Homo sapiens: one gene and its partner. The protein of the gene in region 1 interacts with the protein of each later gene in a biochemical or structural test. Each region holds a gene or a part of one and is shown in the gene's direction. Other genes may lie near its edges.

Region 1 (5,470 bases):
CTTTAACATGTGCCCCCGTTTTTTTTTTTTTTTTAAACCTATATAGAGCATAAATGCACATACATATATAGGGCAAATTTTGAAAGATGATTCATTTATTAAAATAATTTCAAATAGGCCATTGATAACACTAAGGGGTATTTTTCTTATTACTCTGAAGTCATTTGATTACTCTCCTATGATACTACTATTAATATAAGCATTGCAGCTACCAGGCCCATTTTTCACACCCAACAGTAATTTTTTTTTTATTGCCAACTGCATATAAAAATAGACAAAAGAAAAACCATTGATCGGTCCATTCCAACTTATACCACACTGTTTTTCAGATATACCACCAGAAGTTCTTCAAATTACAGGTATTTCTCAAGTGTTGCCTTCCATTTTAGGAGTCAGCTCTGAACAAAGAAGATAGATGACTCAGGATGTCGTTACAGGGCTTTTACATTGCATAGATGAAACCAGCCATTCATAAAGCCAAAACGTTCCATTTTTAACTGGGATCCATTCAGAACCCAGCTGAATCACATCAGGGATTTACAGTACTGGTGTCAAAAACATACTTATTTCCAATGGTATATTTCACTTCCTAGGCACCATTACTGAGCATTTATTTAGTATTTTAAAAAATATTTTAAGCTGAGTCATACTGAAGCTGCAAAGGAATCTTTCAAAAAGGTGCCATGCCTGTATACTCCACCTAGAGGCTATGTGGATTAAGGAAATTTTTACTTAGCAAAGGCTTCTAATAGGTTCCATACTTTTATATTACAGTTCTTTTAAAAATTCTGTTCTTAAAATTAAACTATAGAATTTTTTTTTTTTTAAATGAGACAGTGTTGCTCTGGCACTCAGGCTGGATGGAGTACAGTGGTGCAAACACAGCTGCTCCCTGCAGCCTCAACCTGGGCTTAAGCAATCCTCCCACCTTAGCCTCCTGAATAGCTGGGACCATAGTCGATGTGCCACCACATTGGGCTAATTTTTTAATTTTTTGTAGAGACGGAGTTTTGCCATGTTGCCCAAGCTGGTCTCGAACCCCTGGGCTCAAGCAGTCCTCCCACCCCTGCCTCCCATAGTGTTGTGATTATAGTGAGCCCACTGCACCCAGCCCAAACTATAGAATATTTTGAAAAGAATTTTCTTAATAAGTTATTTTGCCTCAAGTCTCAAAGCAGAGTTTGGCCACCGTTTTTCATACTTTCATCAGTAGCCCCAAACGTTCACTTTCCTTTAAGAGCTGCCCTGTAGCTTTGCTTCAGAAAAAGCCTTGAGGAATATTTGGTCTTAAGATAATTTGGTTCTTTCTAATATAGGGCTTATATCAAGGGTTAAGACAGCCTGAGACCCTGGCTGGATGTGCTTGATGGTCACCAAGACTGTACAAGTTTTGATTGACCATCCTGCCATTCTTAAATTTATATATATATATATCTTAATTACAGCTACTGTCAATTGAATACTTATAATATACCAGAATTGAGCATGGTGCTTCATACTTTCCAACTTCAGCTTGTTCTAATTCCAAAGCCTACATACTTTCCACTAGACCACAGGTCTTCCCAAGTAGTGTAATTAGCTAAAAATTCTCTTGATGACTTCCCTCATTCACTCACTCTTTCACCACAAATGTAAATACTTTCAGGCTGGGTAAATCATTTAATCATGATTACTGTGATTAAATAAAAGTTAACTTTAAAATAAATGAACAAATTTCTTCACCTGAGAACTTATGTAAAACATCTGACCTTACCCTTCCTCCCTCAAATACAGGGGGCAGAGGAATTAAATGAAAGCTGGGTTAAAAAAAAAAACAACAAAAAAACTGATGCCAATGTATAAAAGGGTATTGAGCATGTAAAACTCAGCAACTGTAGCAAGCATCCCATAAACATAAAAATCAATGTACAAGTGTTCCCTGAGTTGCAGCCTGTTCTTGTTAAGGCTAGATTCTCTCTCCATCTCCTCTGCTCTCACTTCCCCTGCAAATAAATTCCCTTATTCCACTGCTAATTTCAGAGCTAGAAAGAATTTATCTTCCCAGTTAGGTTTTCAGAAGAAGCCCGGGGTTTGTAGTTACAGAGGCATAGCTTGGATTCTGATTCTTTGATGTACAAATTATGAATTTGTGTAGATTACTTAACCTCTCAGAGTCTCAAGTTATTTGCATAATGGGGATAATTTGATCTACATGATGAAGCTGTTGAGGTTTAAACAATAGGTATGAAGTAGAACTAATGCCCAGTATATAGTAGGTATTTTCTAAAATAGGTTTATAAATTATGGCTATGTTCCTATGCCAGTCCACAAATGCGAATTTATACCACTTAGGATCAAGGGCATTATATGTAGTGATACAATTATATATGAAATTAAAATTCATGAAAACCTTTATGTAATAATTTTTTTTTTTTTTTTTTGGAGACAATCTCGTTCCATTGCCCAGGCTGGAGTGCAGTGGCGCGATCTCGGCTCACTGCAACCTCCGCCTCCAGGGTTCAGGCGATTCTTGTGCCTCAGCCTCCCGAGTAGCTGGGACCACAGGCATGTGCCACCCCTAATTTTTGTACTTTTAGTAGAGATGGGGTTTCACCATGTTTGCCAGGCTGGTCTCGAACTCCTGACCTCAAGCCATCCAGCCACCTTAGCCTCCCACAATGCTGGGATTACAGGCGTGAGCCACTGCGCCCAGCCACTCTATGTGATAATTCTTAGTCTTATCCTCACTTGGCTAGTTTAGTACCTTTCACATCACTTTCTTAAAACAGTTTCTTCACTTGGCTTTTGGGTCACCTACCTCATTTGCCACTTGTTTTGTAACTTAATTTGTCCTCTTATCTTTGGAGGGCTCAAATCTCACTCCCTAGAGCAAGCCCATGTATTTTTATGGCTTTACATATCATTGACAGGTTCCAAATTTTTATCCTGCCTATTCAGTATCTCTGCTTAGAAGCAGACATCTCAAATATGTCTAAAATGAACTCCTGATTGCTCCCCTACCCCACATCACCTCCCTGCAAAAGTGGCTCCTGCTGCTTTCATCTTCAGGATTTTATCCAGAATATAACTGTTGCACAGCCCCATGGCCACACGAGGTCCATGCCACCATAATTTCTTGCCTCAATTATTGAAATATTGTTTCTTCCCTTGTCCTCTTACACTCTATATTGAACACAGCAATCAAAGCATTCCTTTTAAAATGAAAGTTGGCTCCTGTTACTGCTCTGCTCAAAACCCTTCGATGGCTTCCCATGCCACGCAGTGTGAAAGCCAGAGTCCTTATGATGGCCTTCAAAACCGCATGATCTGGCTGTTCCCCTCATCCTCAATCATAGGGTTTGGTGCTTTCCTCCTTCCTTTCATTCTGCTCCAGCCCTAGCCTCCTTGCTTTTTCTTGCCAAGTGTGCCCTACCCCTGGGCCTTTGTATTTGCTGTTCCCTCTGGCGAGATACTTATATTGCCTACTTCCTCTCTATCTCCATCAACAGATGATCTCAGGAGATGTCAGATGCAGCACCCTGCATCTGGAAGTGTGCTGGAAGCTGGAAATAGAAATGGTTTAGTTCTAGGACAGAGCCATGACATAATAGGTCCTCAGAAAATGATTGCTGACTTAATAAGAGAAAATAAAAAAGGAGCTTTCAGTTGATTGTAGTTTACAATACAATATAAATAAGCAGTACGTTACTATTTCTATTATCAATTTAGGGAACAAAAATATCTACAGTTACACAAAAATGGCCACACATGGTGGCACTAACTAGATTGTCATGAGTGACCCAGAAACTCACCCTTTGGGAGTGCTTGTGTAACAGTGTGTTGAATGCAAGAGGCAGGCCACACAGTGCAAAATACCCAAAGAAGATGAAGAGGTCTCTCAGAGATGGTTTGTATTACAAAGTTATCTTCTTCCTCAGCTAAACAGGAGACTCCTCCAAAGAGTTCTACTCATCTCTGGGTTCACTTCACAGAACACATTGTAAAACATGCTCAGTAAAATCCGCTATATTGAATTACATATAACGCCTTGAATTGCACCTGAATGTCTTTTCCTCCTGCCTATCTCCACTGTGTATACTCTATTGTATCACGTGGTGTAAAGATCTTGGTTTCCTCTGCCCAATTTAAAGAATGTATGACACAGGGGGGTGCCGTAAGGGAAAAACCCTACCATTGTTCGTTGACAGTTGATGAGCTGAAGCCACTTACTTCTGAGCCATGAGGGAGGTTTTACTAATAATTTTTCTACTTTGGAGCTCTGTGATTATTTGGATCTCTGCAGCGTAGTATAGGGCTGCCCTTCCAAAGTGTGTTGAGAAGGGCCTTAAAAGATGATATACAAAAAAAGGGGGATTCCATAGCCAAATAAATTTGGGAAGTGCTGGATTAATGTTACTGGTGTTCTTTACTGAAGGATATCTCAGAAAACTTACTGTGCCAGCATGCTTTATGAATCCTCAAGACAAGGTTTACAGCATTTCCCAAGTGTTTGGCTATGTTATCTTGTTTGTGAGGCACTGTCCAGGAACTAGTGTTTCACAAAAGAGTATTTTGAGAAACTCTGATCAAAGTGTGAACTCTGGTAGGAACTTTATAAGGAGCATTTCACTGCCTTTCTGGATTGCTATGAGAAGCCAATTTTAAAGCCAGTAAGTGGCTAAGTGGACATTAAAAGGGTCTTTGATGTCATCTGGTAATGTAATTACTGAATATGAAATAATGCTTTGGTTTTTTAACCCTAGACTTGGAATGGAAAATTATCTATGTGGGCTCTGCAGAAAGTGAAGAATACGATCAAGTTTTAGACTCTGTTTTAGTGGGTCCTGTTCCCGCAGGAAGGCATATGTTTGTATTTCAGGTAAGATTAATCTTGGTAAATGTGTATGCCAAATATGTTTCGAAGTAGACTATATTATCTATTATCTTATAACCCTTATCCCTTTCCTTTTGGGTTAAAGAACTGCTTCTGCTGCATTCACTTTAAATCTGTTTCCATCATGTTTTAGGCAGTCTCTGTGTCACAGAGGAACTCTTACTTCCTGGTTTTATATGCTGAGAGATGTTAATGTGACGTTTACTTTAGAGAGATGAACAACCTACAGTAAATTTTATACTGTATCATGGCACACAGGGTGGTGAATTTGGGGCTCTTCCTGTGAATAGCACCTCAGTATCAGACTTCCAAGGTGGCTGTCTAGCAACCCAAAACATGGATTCAAAATATCTAAAACTAACTGGCATTGTTAGTAATATGCATCTTCAGTTTATGGTTTCAGCCACTGGAACTGATGGTGATGTAACAAAAACAACTTTATTTCAGCATAATCAGTAGTTGAGCTAGGTTAACAGATACGTTTAGTGGATAGAGATGTGTGGTCTTGGGTCATTGGAATGACATTCCAGAGTTTACTAAAGCATCTTATAATCTACATTATCTTATAAGAGGACTACTTTTGCAAATTTACTACCC
Region 2 (3,500 bases), on another chromosome or scaffold:
GAAGAAACAGATGTGGAAGAAAAATTTAGTGTCTTAGAATTTTTCTATGTAGTTTTGGGCTGTTTCTCTTGGCACACTTTCAGCACATCTAAAGTCTCCATTTGGAGAATGGCTCTGAGGGTAATCACTTCTCTCAGGATGTGCTGAGTACTTAAATTGGTTTGCTTTACACTAATTTTAAAAGCAACTGCATGAATTTGAGTCGGTATATAGACAGCTTGGCAAGTCCGTTGTTCAGGACTGAGTGTCAAAGTATACAACAAAAAGTATACAAAAGGAGATGGTGATGACTCGTGAGTAAAGAGGTAAGTTTATATTACCCACAAACTAAGGTAGAAAAAGTAAGGCAGAAAAATAACACTGTCCTCCAGGTGGTGGATATAGTTAAAAATGTACTTGTGAGTGATGGGAAAGGAGGATGAGGAAGGCTTTTACAGTAATGGTAATGTTCTATTTCTTGATCTTGGAACTGGTGGCAGAGCATGTTCAGTTTATGAAAATTTATTGAGCTCTATACTTATGTTTACTTTTATGATACACTTCCATACAAAGTTAAAAAATCTGCATGGGCGTATTGTTTTAAAATTGAATTCTGTATTAGTTTCCTATTGCTGCTTTAATAAATTCCTCAAATTTAGCAGCTTAAGACAACACAAATTTATCATCTTAGAAGTCTGACACGGGTTTACCTGAGATAAAATCAAGGTGTTGACAGAGCTGCATTCCTTTCTGGGAGGCTGTAGGACAGAAACCATTTCCATACGTTTTTCAGCTTCTAGAGGCCACCCCCATTCCTTGGCCTGTGGTCCCCTTACCATCCTTAAGGCCAGCAATGTGGTAGCTGAGCCCTTCTTAGGTTGCATTACTCCAGCCTGCTCTTCTGCCTCGTTCTTTTACTTTTAAGGGCCCTTGTGATTACATTGGGCCCACATGGATAATTCAAACTAATCTCTCTGTTTCAAGGCCAGCTGATTAGCACCCTAATTCTAAACACTGAATTTCTAAAACACTGAATTTCCCTTCCACATCTATTTCTTCCCCTCATGCCAGTTCACTAGAACTCTGATTTTAATAATGTGTTTGTTACAACAAAATGACACAGTTGACTGGTGAAATAAATTCAGTTTTTTTGTTGTTGTTGTTTTAGCATGATTCATCTTGCTTCTGCCTAAATACCATCTGTGATGGAATTCCCCCTTGTCATGTAACATGACATATTCACAAAGATTAGGACGTGGGCATCTTTGAGGGACCATTATTCTGCCTACCACAATCACGGATTAGTCATTTTCATTAGCGAGAGAGGGTGGGGGATAAAAAAGGAACATGGGTACAGTGAAAAGAGCACTGCTCAGAGTCCAGAATCTGCACTCTGCTCTCGGCTCTCCCACTTCCCAGCTAACAGTTCACCCGCCCACTGGACCTTGGTTCCTGTCTATATCATGAGGGGACTGGATGTGATATTTCCTAAGGTACCTTCTAACATTCTGTGAAAGATACACATCGCCCTACCAAATAGAACATTTAGAATCAGTAACTACTGAGGAGCAAATTTTTTAATTAAAAAAAAAAATCAGGCCGGGCGCGGTGGCTCACACCTGTAATCCCAGCACTTTGGAAGGCCAAGGTGGGCGGGTCATCTGAGGTCAGGAGTTCAAGACCAGCCTCGCTAACGTGGTGAAACCCTGTCTCTACTAAAATACAAAAATTAGCCGGACATGGTGACATGTGTCTATAATCCCAGCTACTTGGGAGGCTGAGGCAGGAGAATCACTTGAACTCAGGAGGCAGAGGTTGTGGTGAGTGGAGACCACGCCACTGCCCTCCAGCCTGGGCAACAGAGCAAGACTGTCTCAATCAATCAATCACTGGGGCAGTAGTCCAGTCTTCAGATTTGGAATTCCTACTACTCTAAGACCTCATTCTGTAATTGTGACTACCTATAAAGTTCAGCTTCAATAGACTTTAGACTTGTCTTCAGCTGTCTTGGGTTTGAAGATGCCAGAATTTATGGTGGTCTCAAGAGACTGTTACTCCTTGGAATTCCCTTTTCTGGGTAAAGGTGCATGCTTTTCAGTTAGGCCCTGGAAGTGAGTCTATATTCTGTTATTTGTGTCATTCTCTTCCCTCCCCCTTTTATTGCCACTTAGTTCTGTTTGTTTCTGACTGGATTTACCTTTTCTCTGCTTTCATTGGCGTTTTGTTCATTCATTTTTGGAGCATCTACCATATGCTGGACATGTGCTGATGCTGAGAGATGAATTAAGAAAAAAGACCCAGCCACTGCCTTCACTGGACTGAATCTAGATTGGGTGTCTCCAAACACTTTTGACTAGAGACCCATTAATAAAAACGTTTGAGGATGCATTCTTTACTAATGTGTGAGGTACATTGTAGAGCATACACAAAAATTGGGAATTAAATAGACTTTGTTCTCTTAGTGCCTGGGGAGTGTCCTCACCCATACTCGGAGACCCTACCACATTAGAATTGACACAGAAAACAGGAGTGTAAAGTTGTGAAGTTATTAAGACAAAAAAAAAAGTCTGGCTTAAAAGTAGTTTCTCAGCCTGATCTTACTGTTCCCTTTGTTCTTTGCAGATTTGTTTGGTGTCTGTGTTTCAATGTCATTGTCCTTGTTTCCTTATTGCAGTCCAGTCTTGCTGCTAAAGCTGGTGTGCCTATCCAGAGGACCAGACCTGGAGCCTTTCCCAGGGTCTAAGCCTGACTTTCATGTATTGCTTGGACACATTTTATTTAGATCTCCATCCTTCTAGGCCTCCCAGCCTGCTACCCAAGCCAAGTAGTAATCTTTAAGATGAACTTGCTGCTTTTTGGAAATAACTCATGTCCTTTTCCCCCTTAGGAGGGATTTGTTCGTGTTGACCGAGATTATGTGCTGAAGTCTGCAGAGCTGGCAAAAGCTGGAGGGTGCAAACATTTCAACTTGCTATCCTCTAAAGGAGCTGATAAATCAAGCAATTTTTTATATCTACAAGTTAAGGTTTGTGCAAGTTTCTGTTTTTCATACACTTTGGAGAACCCTAGCTATTTGGCAGTACTAAAGAATATAAAATATTATATAATACAAAAACCATCAAATGCATCATATTATGCATTTGTATGGCTACGGGACTGCAGGAATATATTTAGTAAACAGGAATGATTGGAAAGGTAATTTCCAATGTCTTCCTCTCTATTAATTATCCAGCAACAAATGGAATGAGATATGGCATCTCCAGCCTTGACTGTCAGCATGGCAGCTTAGCATTGGAAGAGACTTGGAGGCAGTGATTCTTAAACTTTTCCGTCAGTCTCCCTAATGACTGAGCGGAAAGAAGAGCTTTTATTTGTGTAGAGATTTGGAGAAATCTATCCTGAAGCAGTATTCTAGTTACAGACTCAACTTTCTTTTCTTTTTTTTTTTTTTGAGACAGGTTCCCAGGCTGGAGTGCAGTGGCATGATCTTGGCTCGCTGCAGCCTCTGCCCCGCCAAGTAA

The links. Proteins that work in one complex are often made in the same cells at the same time.
Region 2: the proteins of ASF1A (region 1) and HTATIP2 form a complex in vitro, tested with the Homo sapiens proteins (one study listed by BioGRID).

The regions. Positions count from the first base shown.
Region 1 is NC_000006.12:118,896,024-118,901,493, forward strand, and holds part of ASF1A (histone chaperone ASF1A), read left to right. Parts: intron 1-4,742; coding exon 4,743-4,858; intron 4,859-5,470. UniProt on the Homo sapiens protein: Histone chaperone that facilitates histone deposition and histone exchange and removal during nucleosome assembly and disassembly.
Region 2 is NC_000011.10:20,373,714-20,377,213, forward strand, and holds part of HTATIP2 (protein HTATIP2), read left to right. Parts: intron 1-2,866; coding exon 2,867-3,004; intron 3,005-3,500. UniProt on the Homo sapiens protein: Represses translation by preventing reactivation of elongation factor eEF1A. May also inhibit nuclear import by competing with nuclear import substrates for binding to a subset of nuclear transport receptors.